2 linked regions of the Homo sapiens genome follow. The protein of the gene in region 1 interacts with the protein of each later gene in a pairwise test. Each region holds a gene or a part of one and is shown in the gene's direction. Other genes may lie near its edges.

Evidence for each region. The genes of interacting proteins can lie anywhere in the genome.
Region 2: the proteins of CCDC83 (region 1) and FAM161B interact in binary tests that used the Homo sapiens proteins (3 or more experiments, as listed by UniProt).

The regions. Positions count from the first base shown.
Region 1 is NC_000011.10:85,913,856-85,921,157, forward strand, and holds the end of CCDC83 (coiled-coil domain-containing protein 83), read left to right. Parts: intron 1-1,563; coding exon 1,564-1,643; intron 1,644-2,172; coding exon 2,173-2,378; intron 2,379-5,493; coding exon 5,494-5,655; 3' UTR 5,656-6,158; downstream 6,159-7,302.
Region 2 is NC_000014.9:73,946,510-73,954,149, reverse strand, and holds the start of FAM161B (protein FAM161B), read left to right. Parts: upstream 1-4,057; 5' UTR 4,058-4,123; coding exon 4,124-4,177; exon of another isoform or gene 4,178-4,232; intron 4,233-7,544; coding exon 7,545-7,640. Other genes in the region: COQ6 (ubiquinone biosynthesis monooxygenase COQ6, mitochondrial), read right to left, coding at 581-715, 3,655-3,817.

The DNA.
Region 1 (7,302 bases):
ATCTTTTAAACTATTTTCCATATCATTAAGTATCAAGTGTTGTTACCCTGTAGTAGTACAGAAGTAACAGTAAACTAGCAATTAATAGAAAAAGCTAGATTCCTGAAGGTTATGGCATTTAGAAAGATCTTAATTGTTCACAATGGTAAAACTAGGAAACAAAAGAATTCTATAGCCTCAGACATGTCTCCCTGAAGACCACAGCTACATGTGAAACTTACGTTTACTAAGGTACCTTTACTAAACTTACCTTAACTAAAGTTAAGTTTTTAGAAGTTTTCATAGGTGTAAATATTGTATGTAGTTACAGTATTTGCTGGAGCCATTAGCATCTGGATAACACTTTATTCATGTTCTTTAAATAACTCACAGCCCCTAATTTAGGGGATTCACTTTACTTGCTTAGCTGCTAAGCGTGAAGGGTTGTTTGCACATTTGCAAGCGTTCAATTACTTCATGCTGTCTTCAGGTAAACCTCATGGAAATGCCATACAGAGTTTTCAAAGCATGATATTTTCTGATTGAAAATTCAGTGGACACTCTAAAAAGGAGAGCACAGAATTAAACAATGTAGAGAGAGCTACAACAGCATATGGACATCAGTTCGCTGGGCTTGTAGGTGAAGCATACCACTAAGCAAAAGCCAGGACCTAGATGGTATCTTGGATTCCTACTGTTCGCTTTCTCTTTCTCTCTTCATCTCAAAACGAAAACCACTCAAAAGTGGTCTTTCAGGACACTATCATTCCGCACCTGAAATACTACAACAGCGACCTGACTAGTGCCATGCTCACTCTCAATTTTTTGAACTTTAAGTGTGTTATTTCCTTATTTGGAATGCCCTTCTTTCACCCCTAGCTCTTCCCTGGCAACCACCTCCAGGTTCAAGACTGTATTAGTCCATTCTCATGCTGCTATAAAAAACTGCCCGAGACTGGGTAATTTAGAAAAGAAAGAGGTTTAAGTGACTCACAGTTCCACCAGGCTGGGGAGGACTCAGGAAACTTAGATTCATGGCAGAAGGGGAAGCAAACATGACCTTCTTCACATGGCAGCAGGAAGAAGTGCAGAGCGAAGGTTGGAGAAAAGCCCCTTATAAATTATCAGATCTCATGGGAACTCACTAACACGAGAACAGCATGGAGGTAACCGCTCCCATAATTCAATTACTTCCCACTGGGTCCCTCTCCCACAACATATGGGGATTATGGGAACTACAGTTCAAGATGGGATTTGGGTGGGGCCCAGCTAAACTGTATCAAAGACTAAGATCAGGTTTCATCCAGGAAAACTTTCCTTCCCCCTAAAGCTGACTCAGGTGCTGCTTCTTTCTGCATCCCATTATTCTCACACTATGGTAATTACCCATCATGGTACACACCATGACTTTAAAATACCGTAAGGCTGTCTGCCACCCCACTGGGCTTTATGCTCCTCAGGGTAGAAATTATGTCTCATTTTTCATCTATGCATTTCTAGCACCTAGTAGAGAGATAGACCCTAGTAAGCATGCAATGCAATATTTATTGACTGACAGATTGTTTTTCTCATTTGTTCTTTTAGGCGACTATATCTTACCCAAGCTGCTGGACTAGAAGTGCCACCTGAAGAAATGTCTTTGGAATTGCCAGAAACACATATAGGTATTACTTTATTGCAATAATGATGATGATTTTTTTCAAACTCTTGTTTTTCAATTTAAAAAACACTTACCTATTGTGAGCAGGTGCCCCACATACAAAAGCTATTCAGAGAATAGACACCTGCCAGCTTCTCTAAATTTCTCCTCTTGCAGTGCTTGTCCTAATCTATCTCCTGTCTGTAGTCCCACTTTCAAATTAAGGTCACCATGTTTCACAGTAAATTAAATAAATACTGGTGAAGAGGGATGAGACTGCTGTCTACACTGGCAAGGTTTAGGGCCCTATTTAGCCAACCAAAATGACAACATATACTTAGGCACCAATATAATTACTATAACTTATTAGCTAACAGAAAGAAATACAACTTAGAGTTTCTACAAATGGGACTCCCTCTTACTTTAATACATAAATTCTACATTTGCAATTCTCAAAGTTCCATCCAATTAAAAATGTGACAAAGTATGTATTGCATTTTTATTTGTATATGTTCAAAATGTATACATAATTAATTCCTTTGTATTTATCCAAGAAGAGAAGTCAGAATTGCAACCCACAGAAGTAGAAAGTAGAGACTTGATGTCCTCATCAGATGAGAGCACTATCTTACATCTTAGTCATGAAAATAGCATCGAAGATCTCCAGTATGTGAAGATAGATAAAGAGGAAAACTCAGGCACAGAGTTTGGGGACACTGATATGAAGTACTTACTATATGAGGATGAGAAGGATTTCAAGGTAAGATTCATAACAACACAACTTTGACTACTAAGAAAATGCTGTTTTGAGAAATGCTGTTTTAATTGAGAAAATTAACCTAAAATATGGATATTGAAAATTCCATTTGCAATTATTAGTAAAATTGGCCCACCATTCACATCTCTCATTTGGATACCATTTTCACTCCTACTCTTGCCCAATTTGCTACCTATATTCCTCTATAGGCCTCCATTAATAGTATACAAAGTAAGTTATCTAATGCTACATAACAATCCCCAAAACCTAGTGGCTTATAACAATAACTATTTATTCTCGCTTAGGGCTCTGTTGGTTAGAAATTCAGGAAGGGCTCCACTAGACAGTTCTCACTTGGTGGACTCTCAGTCAGTTGCAACCATATGTTGGCTAGGGCTGCACTCATCTGAAGGCTTGATCGGGGCAGGAGTCTTCATTTCCAAGGTGGTTTATATGGCTAGCATGTTGATGCTGGCTAAACTGAGGGCCTCACTTCTTCTTCACATGTGCCTCCTGACAGGGTGTTTTGAATTTCTTTTGTTATAGTGTCTGTCTTCTCCCAAAACAAGCAACCCTAGAGACCAAGATAAAAGCAGCAATTTGGCTGCAGTGGCTCATGCCTGTAACCCCAGCACTTTGGGAAGCTGAGGTGGGCGGATCACCTGAGATCGGAAATTTGAGACCAGCCTGGCCAACACGGTGAAACCCTATCTCTACTAAATATACCAAAAATAGCTGGGCATGGTGGTGCGTGCCTGTAATCCCAGCTAGTTGACAGGCTGAGGCAGGAGAATTGCCTGAACCTGGGAAGCAGAGGTTGCAGTGAGCAGAGACTGTATCATTGCACTCCAGCCTGGGTGACAGAGCGAGACTCTGAAAAGAAAGAAAGAAAAAAGAAAAAGAAAGAGAGAGAGAGAGAGAGAGAGAGAGAGAGAGAGAAAGAAAGAAAGAAAGAAAGAAAGAGAAAGAAAGAAAGAAGGAAAGAAAGAAAGAAAGAAAGAAAAGAAAGAAAGAGGGAAGGAGGAAAGGAAGGAAGGAAGGAAGGAAAGAAGGAAGGAAAGAAAGAAAGAAAAGAAAGAAGGCAGTTTTATATGGCTTAGCCTTGGAAATCATACATTGTCACTTCCATCATATTCTACTGGTTGATGTAGTTACAAAGTTCCATCCAAGGGGAAGGAACATAGCTCCTACATCTTGATGGAGGAAGGTCAGTATCACATTGTAAGAGAAGCACTTGGGATAGGATATGAATTAGGCTATCTTTGGAAAGTACAGATTGCACATATACCATTCATTAAAACCTGGAGTATTAAGCCTTTTAATTTTGAAACTTCTTTCTAGTACATTCCAGTTACTCCCACAGCCATCCCTTGTTATTTTCCCTCTTGATACTTTAAAAGTTCTCCTAGAATTTGATGTCTGGTAGTGGAAAAAATGATGTAAGAAAGCAGAAGAAACTGAATAAACCAACACAAACCATTTTAACTAACTACAATTCAATCCTGCTGCCATCAAGCGATGATTTAAAGACTAAAGTTCTAGTTCCTCTAGCACTGAAACATCTCCATGCGTATCTTGGAATCATGACTCCTGGGATGTCATGATGATCTCAGGCTAGTGGACAGTTGTCTACAAAATCCCCAAATAGCATACCATTTGGTTGAATGAAAGACTTACTTTCCATGAAAGTTTTTGATGTAGTCAAACTGCCATGGCCATGGTGTATTACTTGAGAATCCTCCTCCCAGTGATTCTGAAATATGTGGTAGGTCTCCATCAACTTGCTTTTCTACTATCTTACATTTATCACAGCTACATATTTTGAAAGCTAAATAGAATTATATGTATTTTGAGAAATAAGACATCACCTTCCTTTTTCATTCTTTGATTCTTCTAAATTCAAATAAATATTTATTGAGAACCCCACAACATGCCAGGTCCTTGTTAAATGCTTGTGCATTTAAGGGAGAGAACAGCAAGAAATGAAATCTCAAATATGCCTATACAGCAGGCCTTGCCCCCAAATCACTTACAGACTTGTAGAAGACAGGTAAGAAAATCAACAAGTACCATATAAGAGTAAACAGACCACCTGTACCTGTGTCCCTGATCAGTCTGTGCTTATCATTGCACCCCAGCACTTGATATAGGGCCTGGCATACAGTGAACACTTGGGAAAGGTTTGCTAAAGTGACGTGTCAAAGGAATTAAAAAGCAAGAGTTATGGCATGGGAGACTTCCTGGAGGAAGGGACATTGGGTAGGGCGTGAGCTCTGTCCACCCAGTTTTGGGTTGGCTATGGATTTCATATCAGTTAGACTTCAAATTCTGTTTGTTGATATCTTAGATTTGTAAACCAAAAGCTATCTGAGACAGGTCTCAATCAATTTAGAAGTTGATTTTGCCAATGTTAAGGACAGTACCTGGGAGAAAAAAAACCCACAAAATCACAGAAATAGTGTGTGGTCTGTGCCTGTCTCCAAAGATGACTTGGAGGCCTTCAATATTTAAAGGAGAAAAGTGGGCTGGAGGGGAAAGCAGGAAGGTATGGTCATCCACATGTTGCAAGAGAAAAGGAGCAGGTAGGGGAACAGTCAATTATGTATTCACCTCGCACTTTACAAAAGATCAGCTGAACATAGAGTAGCTACCTGTGGGGATATTTAACCTTTTATCTGTACATATCTGCTTAGGAACAAAAGCAAAGGCAGTTGCTTACATGACTCAGCTTTCAGCTTAATTTTTTCCTTTTGGCAAAGTGAATTGGGGTCCCATGTTTTTATTTTCCTTTCACAGACTATAGTTAGTTTTGCACTAACTATAGCCAGCATCCCTCCCCCATTAACCCACTATGAGACAAGCCTTCCAGCCTTGCTGCCTGCTTTTGGAAGATCTTGCCTACTGTGTATGCCCTACTGGGTATATAAGTTTCCTGAGTATTTTGTTTTTTTCCCATTTATAGTGGCTCTCATATTTCATGTGCTACACAGCATCAGGCAATTAGGGGGCAATGAAGTCTGTCAGATAAAGGCCAACTGTAATAAAGAAAGCCTAATCTATCAAGCTGGTAATTTGCTGAATCACCTCTCCTATTCTTTTTTGTGCCTGTTCACCATAGGATTATGTAAACTTGGGCCCCCTGGGAGTGAAGCTTATGAGTGTGGAGAGCAAGAAAATGCCCATTCATTTTCAAGAGAAGGAAATTCCAGTCAAACTCTATAAAGATGTCAGGAGCCCAGAAAGCCACATCACATATAAGATGATGAAGTCTTTTCTCTAAGACGGAAAGCTGCAAAGGAAACACAACTTTTCCTTATAAATGTTCTTTGGGAACTGAAGTATATCCGTTGCCCATTTTACTTACACTTTGGCTCATTTTTAAACCAGCTGTTATTTCTAAAGGTCATATTTACATTTAAAATCAAAGGTATTCAGCTATTCATTTACTTGCATGGTATGAGTGACCAAAACGGAAGCACGCTTTGTATTTCTACACTGAAGTATTCAGAAGCATGACAGTGGGTTCAAGGTAGTCTCTGAGGTTCCTTTTCACACACAAAAAATTCACTGATTAATCTGTGATTCCAGTATGAAATAGTTCCATTAGAAATGTTTCTAAGAAAAACTTAGAAGTTTGCATAGCATTGTCTACACATCTTTCCCTCTGAGGATGCTCAATGTGATAGACAGCCAGTCTATAATGCAAGCCAATTCTCCGTAGTTTAACCCTGTGTATTAGTCTGTTCTCATGCTGCTAATAAAGACATAATTGAAACTGGGTAATTTATAAAGGAGGTTTAATTTATTTACAGTTCAACATGGCTGGGGAGGCCTCACAATCATGTCAGAAGGCAAATGAGGAGCAAAGTCACATCATACATGGTGGCAGGAAAGAGAGGGCTTGTGTAGGGGAATTCCCATTTATAAAACTATCAGATCTTGTGAGACTTATTTACTACTTCAAGAACAGTATGGGAAAAACCTGCCTCCATGATTCAATTACCTCCTACCAGGTCCCTCCCACAACACATGGGGATTATGGGAACTATAATTCAAGATGAGATTTGGGTGGGGACATAGCCAAACCATATCACCCTGTTTATAATGAATATAAAAAATGAATGTTGGAAATAAACTTGAGAGTGTTAATTTGTTGTATAAAAATATTCCACTGATAGGGAGCACTCCCTCCCTCCAGCTGTATCTAGTCTAAACTACCACATTCCTATCCAAAGCAAATACCACTTCTCTCAGGGCTACCACAAGCCAAGGACACTGTGAGTACCTGGATGTGACATCAGCATTCCATTTGGATCCTTGAGACCAGATAATACCACCATATGTCATATTTCTGTAATCTTTAGTGATATAAGGATTAATTTAATCATCAGTGGGGGATGTTATTGGCATTTAAAGTAAGGACAATTGTGCAGCACTGTCTTGAGCCCACAGGATGTTAGCACTCCTGCTCCCTCAATCTCAAATGCTGCTACATTAACACTCTTCATTGTAGAAGTTGAAAACACTCGTCATCTTTCCCAACACCCCTTACATTGTAGTACCATCACCAATTGAACATCTTTGAGTTTCTCAATTTTTGGAGACAAGGACTCACTCTGTCACCCAGGCTAGAGTGCAGTGGCACTATCATAGCTCACAGCATCCTGAAACTCCTGGGCTCAAGCAATCCTCCTGCCTCAACCTCCCGAGTAGCTGGGACTGCAGGTCTGTACTATCATGCCTCAACCTCCAACAGTGCTAGGATTACAGGCATGAGCCACCGACCGGCCTCTCCTGTACTTTAATCTCCATTGTGTTCGGTGCTTTCCTGGACCCTTCCCATTCTCTCCCAAAACTTCCAACAACAACCTCTAAAAAAACAATAAACAAGACAAATGCCACTGTTGAAGGTGTAAATGTCCAAGGG
Region 2 (7,640 bases), on another chromosome or scaffold:
AACACATAATATAATGCCAGGTAGTAGTAAGCATTATGAAGAAAAATAGAGCAGGGAAAGGGGCTAGAAAGTGATGGAAGAGTTCAATTTGAGATGGGGTGGTTTCAGACAGGATGGTCTGAGGGAAACATCTAGCAGACCTAATGACAATTTGCTAACTGGTTCCATGTGCACACATTATTCATCTGCACCCCAAGGGAATTTCACGTGTAAGCTCCCTAGCTTGCTAGAAGGCTTGACTCAGGATGAAGAGAGCCCTGCTATTCAAAGTGAATGTTCATGATTAGTTCATATGATTTCAGTTCCACCAATTCATAATGACACAACATCACAAGTGAAGTCAACATGATGGACCCACATGCCTCAAGGATGCATTCCTCAGACAGGGAGTTGAGGCAGTAGCAACTGCAGGGGTCCACATCTTCAACTCTGCCCTAGACTACCAATCCCACCCCCTCTCTCCACCCACCTCAGTGAGCTCCCTCCTTGTCAGATGCTCTGATGACTCTGCCCCATGGGATACACTAGAAAGCTAAGTGGGAAAGGAGATTGGATCTTTGAAGGAGGATCTTCTACTCACTACTGAGAAGCGTTGCAGAGCCAGGGGAAATGGAGCTGACCCTGTTGCTGTAAGTTTCTGACAATTTCTCCAGTACTTTCTTTGGACCTGCTTCGAGCAACAGGATTTTCTTGTCATGAAAGTGAATATCATATCCTTAAAAAAAGAAAATTTATATCATCTTAGGAAAATCAAGAATTTCCTTTCCCATTACCAAGAGAAACAACAGAGTAACCACTTAACCCTTAGAATATGAATTTCTTACAGAGAACATAAACACTATACCCATGCAGAGTCCTAAGCAATAACATATACCACCATTTTAGCTATGAGAACCACCCTGCCCACAACTGTAAGACTTCTCCAAAGACCACTACATGCCACGTGCCAAGAAGCAAATAATGGCAAACACCTAACTAGCAAACAGAATGCCCTAGAAAGGAAAAATGAAGTAAAAAAGTTAGACTACAGTATTTAAACACCAGTTCTTTTCAATCTCCAGAGTATTAAGTCACTAAAAATTACAACTCCTGTTCAAAAGAAAAAGTGGAATAAACAAGCAAAATTCAATGCAGTCTCAAGATTAAACCAAGAATAAAGAATTAGAGTTTATAAAGGCCGGTGCGGTGGCTCACACCTGTAATCCCAGCACTTTGAAGGCCGAGGTGGACAGATCACCTGAGGTCAGGAGTTCAAGACCAGCCTAGCCAACATGGTGAAACCCGTCTCTACTAAAAATACAAAAAAATTAGCCAGGTGTGATGGCGGGCACCTGTAATCCCAGCTACTTGGGAGGCTGAGGCAGGAGAATCGCTTGATCCTGGGAGGAGGAGATTGCACCACTGCACTCCAGCCAGGGCAACAAGAGCAAAATTCTGTCTCAAAAAGAAAGAATTAGAGTTTATAAAAGAAAACGTGAGCCAGGCATGGTGGCTAACGCCTGTAATCTCAGCATTTTGGGAGGCCGAGGTGGGAGGATTGCTCAAGCCTAGGAATTCAAGACCAGCCTGGGCAACATGGCGAGACCCTGTCTCTACAAAAAAAAATTTTTTTTAACTAGCCAGGCATGGTGGCACACCTGAGCTATGTTTGTGCAACTGCAGTCCTACCTGGGGGACAGAGCAAAACCCTGTCTCAAAAACTACAAAAAAGAAAAGAAAAGAAAGAAAGGTCAGGCACAGTGGGTCACACCTATAATCCCAGCACTTTGGGAGACTGAGGTGATGGATCAGTTGAGCTCAGGAGTTCAAGACCAGCGTGGGCAACATGGTGAAACCCCATCTCTACTAAAAACACAAAAATTAGCCAGGTGTGATGGCGGGCGCCTGTGGTCCCAGCTCCTCAGAAGGCTGAGGCAGGAGAATCACTGGAACCTGGGAGGCAGAGGTTGCAGTGAGCTGGGATCCTGCCACTGCACTCCAGCCTGGGTGACAGAGCAGAGACTCTGTCTCAAAAAAAAAAAAAAAAAAAAAAAAAGTTAGCTCCAGCCATACAGACAGTGAGCGGTCCATCTTGGCAGCTTTTGCTGTGGAGGATGGGGCACAGGGACATGCTCTGTAGAGCATGCTCTGTAAAGGGCACTATCTTCTTTTTTTTTTTTTTTTTTTTTTGAGATATCGAGTTTCGCTCTTGTTGCCCAGGCTGGAGTGCAGTGGCGCGATCTCAGCTCACTGCAACCTCCCCCTTCCAGTTTCAAGCGATTCTCCTGCCTCAGCCTCCCAAGCAGCCATGAGAACCACCCTGTTACAGAAGTCTATGATCTGCTTTAAGTTAAATTTTGTGTATCTTGTGAGATGAGGATCATAGGGTGGAACAGCTGCCCTTAGATCAGGGTGTCCAATCTTTTGGCTTCCCCAGGCCACAGTGGAAGAATTGTCTTGGGTCACATATAAAAAAACACTAATATTAATGATAGCTGATGAGCTAAAAAAAAAAAAAAAATCACAAAAAAAAAATCTCATAATGGGCCAAGCATGGTGATTCATGCCTGTAATCCCAGCACTTTGGGAGGAAGGGGCAGGTGGATCACGAGATCAGGAGTTCGAGACCAGCCTGGCCAATATGGTGAAACCCCGTCTCTACTAAAAATACAAAAATTAGCCAGGCATGGTGGCACAAGCCTGTAATCCCAGAGGTTGCAGTGAGCTGAGATCGTGCCATTGTACTCCATCCTGGGCAACAAGAGCGAAACTCCATCTCAGGGAAAAAAAAAAAAGTGAAAAGACTACAAAATGGAAGAAAATATTTGCAAGTCATTTATCAGATAAGGGACTTATACAGAATAAACAAAATAATGGCCAGGCAGGGTTGCTTATGCCGGTAATCCCAGCACTTTGGGAGGCTGAGGCAGGTGGATTGCTTGAGCCCAGAAGTTCCAGACCAGCCTGGGCAACATAGTGAGACCTCGTCTCTACAAAAAAATACAAAAATCAGCCGAGTGGTGGCGCATTCCTGCAGTCCCAGCTATTTGGGAGGCAGAGGCAGGAGGATCAATTCAGCCAGGGAGGTTGAGGCTACAGTGAGCCGTGATCGTGCCACTGCACTGCAGCCTGGGCACAGCGGAAGACCCTGTCTCAAAAAATAAAAATAACTCTTACCACAGTATTCAAGAGACAAACTGCTCAATTAAAAACCGGGCAAAGGGTCTGAATAGGCATTTCTCTAAAGAAGATATACAAATGACCAATAAACATATGAAAGGATATTCAACATCATTAATCATTAGGGAAATACAAGTCAAAACCTGGAGATCCCACTTTACTTACACCCACTAGAATGTCTATAAACAAAAAGACAATGACAAGTACTGTCCAGGATCTGGAGAAACTGGAACTCTCATTTATAAATAACCCCGGGAAGGCCTGTTTTCCCATGAGTAGAACAGACTCTGAACGCCCCTCCCACTTTTGACCCTAATGGACCCTGAAGGACCACACGCATTCCGGCGTGCCCTGGGGTTCCTCTAGGAGGGGAGGGGAGAAGCGTCGCGAGACCTGAGAAATTGTCTTTGGGCAAGTCGTGCTAGGGCTCTCACGGCTCTCATCGTGCCTCCGCGGCCCGGTTTCCGGCCACTAGTAGCCTGGAGAAGGGCTTACCCAAGGCACAGGCCATGGCAGCGCCCACCAGGCCTCCACCCGACACCACCACGTCATACACGGTGTCTGTTGAGGCGCCGGACCACCTGCGCCAGGACACCAGCGGGCCGCTGTGGGGAGCTGCACGCACAGCCCCGCATCGGCTGACAAGCCGGGCCGCCATGGTGCAGACCTGCGCCGTCGCACTCAGAACTCCCGCAGGCCCACCTACGTAGTGCGTCCGGAGCAGAGCACTCCAATCCCGTCCCGCTTCCGCGGCGTCCTCAGAACCGGAAATAAAATGCGCGGAGAAAATAGGCCAATCGGAAAACGAACCTTGCCTCCTCGGGCGGGATGGATCGGAGGCTGCCCTGGAAGCCAACCAGACGCCAAAGCTAGAAAGGGGTGGACCCTGGCCCCGCATAGCTCTCGCTGCCACCGCTGCTGCCACTATCGCTGTCACTGTCGCTGCTGCCTCTGTCCAGCTGAAATGACCGTGGGGAGGCCTGAGGGAGCCCCCGGAGGCGCGGAGGGGAGCCGTCAGGTGAGGAGAGAAAAGAGACTGCCCCCGGGAAAGGAATCCCGGAGAGGAAACTGTTGGGCGTTGCCTTGGAGACAGACAGCAGGGGCGTGTCACGGAGGGGCGTGGGATTAAAATGAGCGTTTAGGGACCAGGAGGCGGACTCTGACTTACAGACCTGAACCTCTCGGACTTTATACGAGGCTCTTGATAGGCAATGTCACTCAGTTTTCGCTTATCCTCTTAGTACTCTATGACCAGTAGTACAATTGTCGTCTCATTTTTGTAGAAGAGAAAACTGAGGCACAAAGAGATTAAGAAAATTGCTCCCCAAATTTGGCCGGGCGTGGTGGTTCACGCCTGTAATCCTAGCACTTTGGGAGGCCGAGGCGGGTGGATCACCTGAGGTCAGGAGTTCGAGACCAGCCTGGCCAACATGGTGAAACTCCGTCTAAAAATTTAAAAAAAAAAAAAAAATTGGCCAGGCGCGCTGGCTCACGCCTGTAATCCCAGCACTTTGGGAGGCCAAGGAAAGCGGATCATGAGGTCAAGAGATCGAGACCAGGCTGGTTTCCATGGCAAAACCCCGTCTCTACTAAAAATACAAAAATTGGCCGGGTGCGGTGGCTTACTCCTGTAATGCAGCACTTTGGGACCTGAGGTCAGGAGTTCAAGACCAGCCTGACCAACATGGAGAAACCCTGTCTCTACTAAAAAAAATACAAAATTAGCTGGACGTGGTGGCACATGCCTGTAATCCCAGCTACTCGGGAGGCTGAGGCAAGAGAATTGCTTGAACCTGGGAGGTGGAGGTTGCAGTGAGCCGAGATTGTGCCATTGCACTCCAGCCTGGGCAACAAGAGCAAAACTCTCTCAAAAACAAAAACAAACAAACAAAAAAATACAAAAAATTATCTGGGCATGGTGGTGCGCGCCTGTAGTCCTAGCTACTCGGGAGGCTGAGGCAGGAGAATCACTTGAACCCGGGAGGTGGAGGTTGCAGTGAGCCAAGATTGCACCACTGCACTCTAGCCTGGCGACAGAGCGAGACTCCGTCTCAAAAAAAAAAAAAAATTAGCCAGGTGTGGTGGCGCGTGCCTCCAGTGATCCACCAGCCAAGGCCTCCCAAAGTGCTGGGATTACAGGCGTGAGCCAGTGCACCTGGTGGACCCCAAACTATTAAAGGCAAAAAGTAGATTGGCAGTTGCTTAGGGCTGGTGGGGTGGGGTGTGGAGGGTTAGGGGAAATAGGGAGTGACCACTAAAGCGTGTGGCATTTCTTTTAAGGGCGATGAAGGTGTTCTAAAATTGTGATGGTAGTTGCACAACTCTGTGTATATACTAAAACCACTGAATTGTACACTTTAAATGAGTGAATATATTGTATAGAAATTATGTCTTAATAAAGTTGTCTTTAAAAGAAAAGAAAAAACGTGCCCAAGATCACACACTGTAGCAGAGCCAGGGCTAGGGTGCATACATATCTCTGACTCTTACCCTGGATTTTAGTAAGCCTGGCTCCTCATCAATCAAGTGTCAATTCAAAATTCCTCCACAATGAAAAATAAAAATCAGCCCAGGACTGAGAAAGTATAACTCAGACTGTCATAGGCATAGATAATGCCAACGGCAAGAGCATCAGGAAACAGTGTTTCTCTCAGGGCCATAACATAGGTGCAAAATTACTAACACCCCTTCTTCCAAAAGGCTTACTGATCAATTACTTACCCACCCTACTTTATTCTTCTCACCTTTTGAATAAGTATTGCCGTTGGGCGGGGCCCAATGGCTCACGCCTGTAATCCCAGCACTTTGGGAGGCCAAGGCAGGCGGATCATTTGAGCTCAGGAGTTGGAGACCAGCCTGGGAAGCATGGTGAAACCCCATCTGTACAAAAAATACAAAAACTAGCCAGGTGTGATGGTGTGTGCTGTAGTCCCAGCTACTCGGGAGGCTGAGGTGGGAGGATCATCACCTGAGCTCAGGAGGTTCAGGCTGCAGTGAGGCATGATTGCACCACTGCACTCCAGAACCTGGGTGACAGAGCAAGAACCTGTCTCAAAAAAAAAAAATTGCTCAGTCATTCGCTTAACTAAATTGTCCCCACTTCATGACAGCACCATTCCAGAGTTGATACCTGGTTCCCTGAATCAATCAGGGAAGCCAACCCTATAAAAATCACACCCTCAACCCTAAGTTCCCTGTGGTTTTCCGTAGTGTCCTGCAGCAAGTTAATAAGCCTAACTGATGTACTGATTACAAGTACATTCCTAATAACCTTAATCTGATGGACTTTATCAACCAAAAAGCTTTCCATAGGCACTCCATCTTTTTATAACCTCACAGTTGTTTATGGTTTTCACAGAATTTATCATCATCTTATATTGTCTGTCTCCTCTTACTACAGTGTAAGCTTCATGAGAGTAAGGACCTTGTTTGTCTTGTTCTCAGCCAAATGCCCAGTGCACATCAGGCACCCAGTAAATATTTTATGAATGAATGGAGTACTGAAAAAGTTAATTGTGTGTCCCACTTCTTAAGACATTGCTCTTCCAGCCAGACCATACTGTCTGTCTTGTTAATCATCCATTCCTTTTTTTTTTTTTTTTTTTGAGACGGAGCATCACTCTTGTTGCCCAGGCTGGAGTGCAGTGGCGCAATCTCATCTCACTGCCACCTCCGCCTCCCGGGTTCAAGCGATTCTCCTGCCTCAGCCTCCCCAGTAGCTGAGATTACAGGCACCCGCCACCACGCCCAACTAATTTTTGTATTTTTGTAGAGACGGGATTTCACCATGTTGGTCAAGCTGGTCTTGAACTCCTGACCTCAGGTGATCCACCTCCCTCGGCCTCCCAAAATGCTGGGATTACAGGCATGAGCCACTGCACCCAGCCATCATCCATTCCTTGACAGAGTGCAAATTAGCTAGAACATGAGGAAAGCAGAGGAGTAGAAATAAGGGAAGGGAGAGAAGGAAGATGAGCAAGAAGTAGGTTAAAACCCAAGTAAGGGAGAGTGTGGCCATCATCATGGGCAGGATTCCTGGAGTGCAGGGGTCAGAAAGCCTGGTGTAGGTGAGGTACTCTGTAAAAGCTTACTGCACTGTATGGCATAGGGAACCAACTTCAGCTCTTCACTTCCCTCTCCATCCCTTCAACCAAGCGCACTTCATAGACCAAGTTGTGAAATTTCTTTAGACCAAGAAACACACCTTATTTTTAAAAATTCCTCCCAAAGTGTTGGGATTACAGGTGTGAGCCAGTGCATCTGGCAGACCCCAAATTCTCCCCAGTCCCTAATATACAGAAGCTTATTCAAAGCGAAATTAAGTTATGATTTGAATACCTTTGAAATTATTGTTTGACCCACAGCCTATTTCTATTCTATTTTAGATATTTCCCCCCGAGTCCTTCGCAGACACAGAGGCAGGAGAGGAGCTGTCCGGGGATGGGCTGGTTTTGCCCAGGGCCAGCAAACTTGACGAGTTC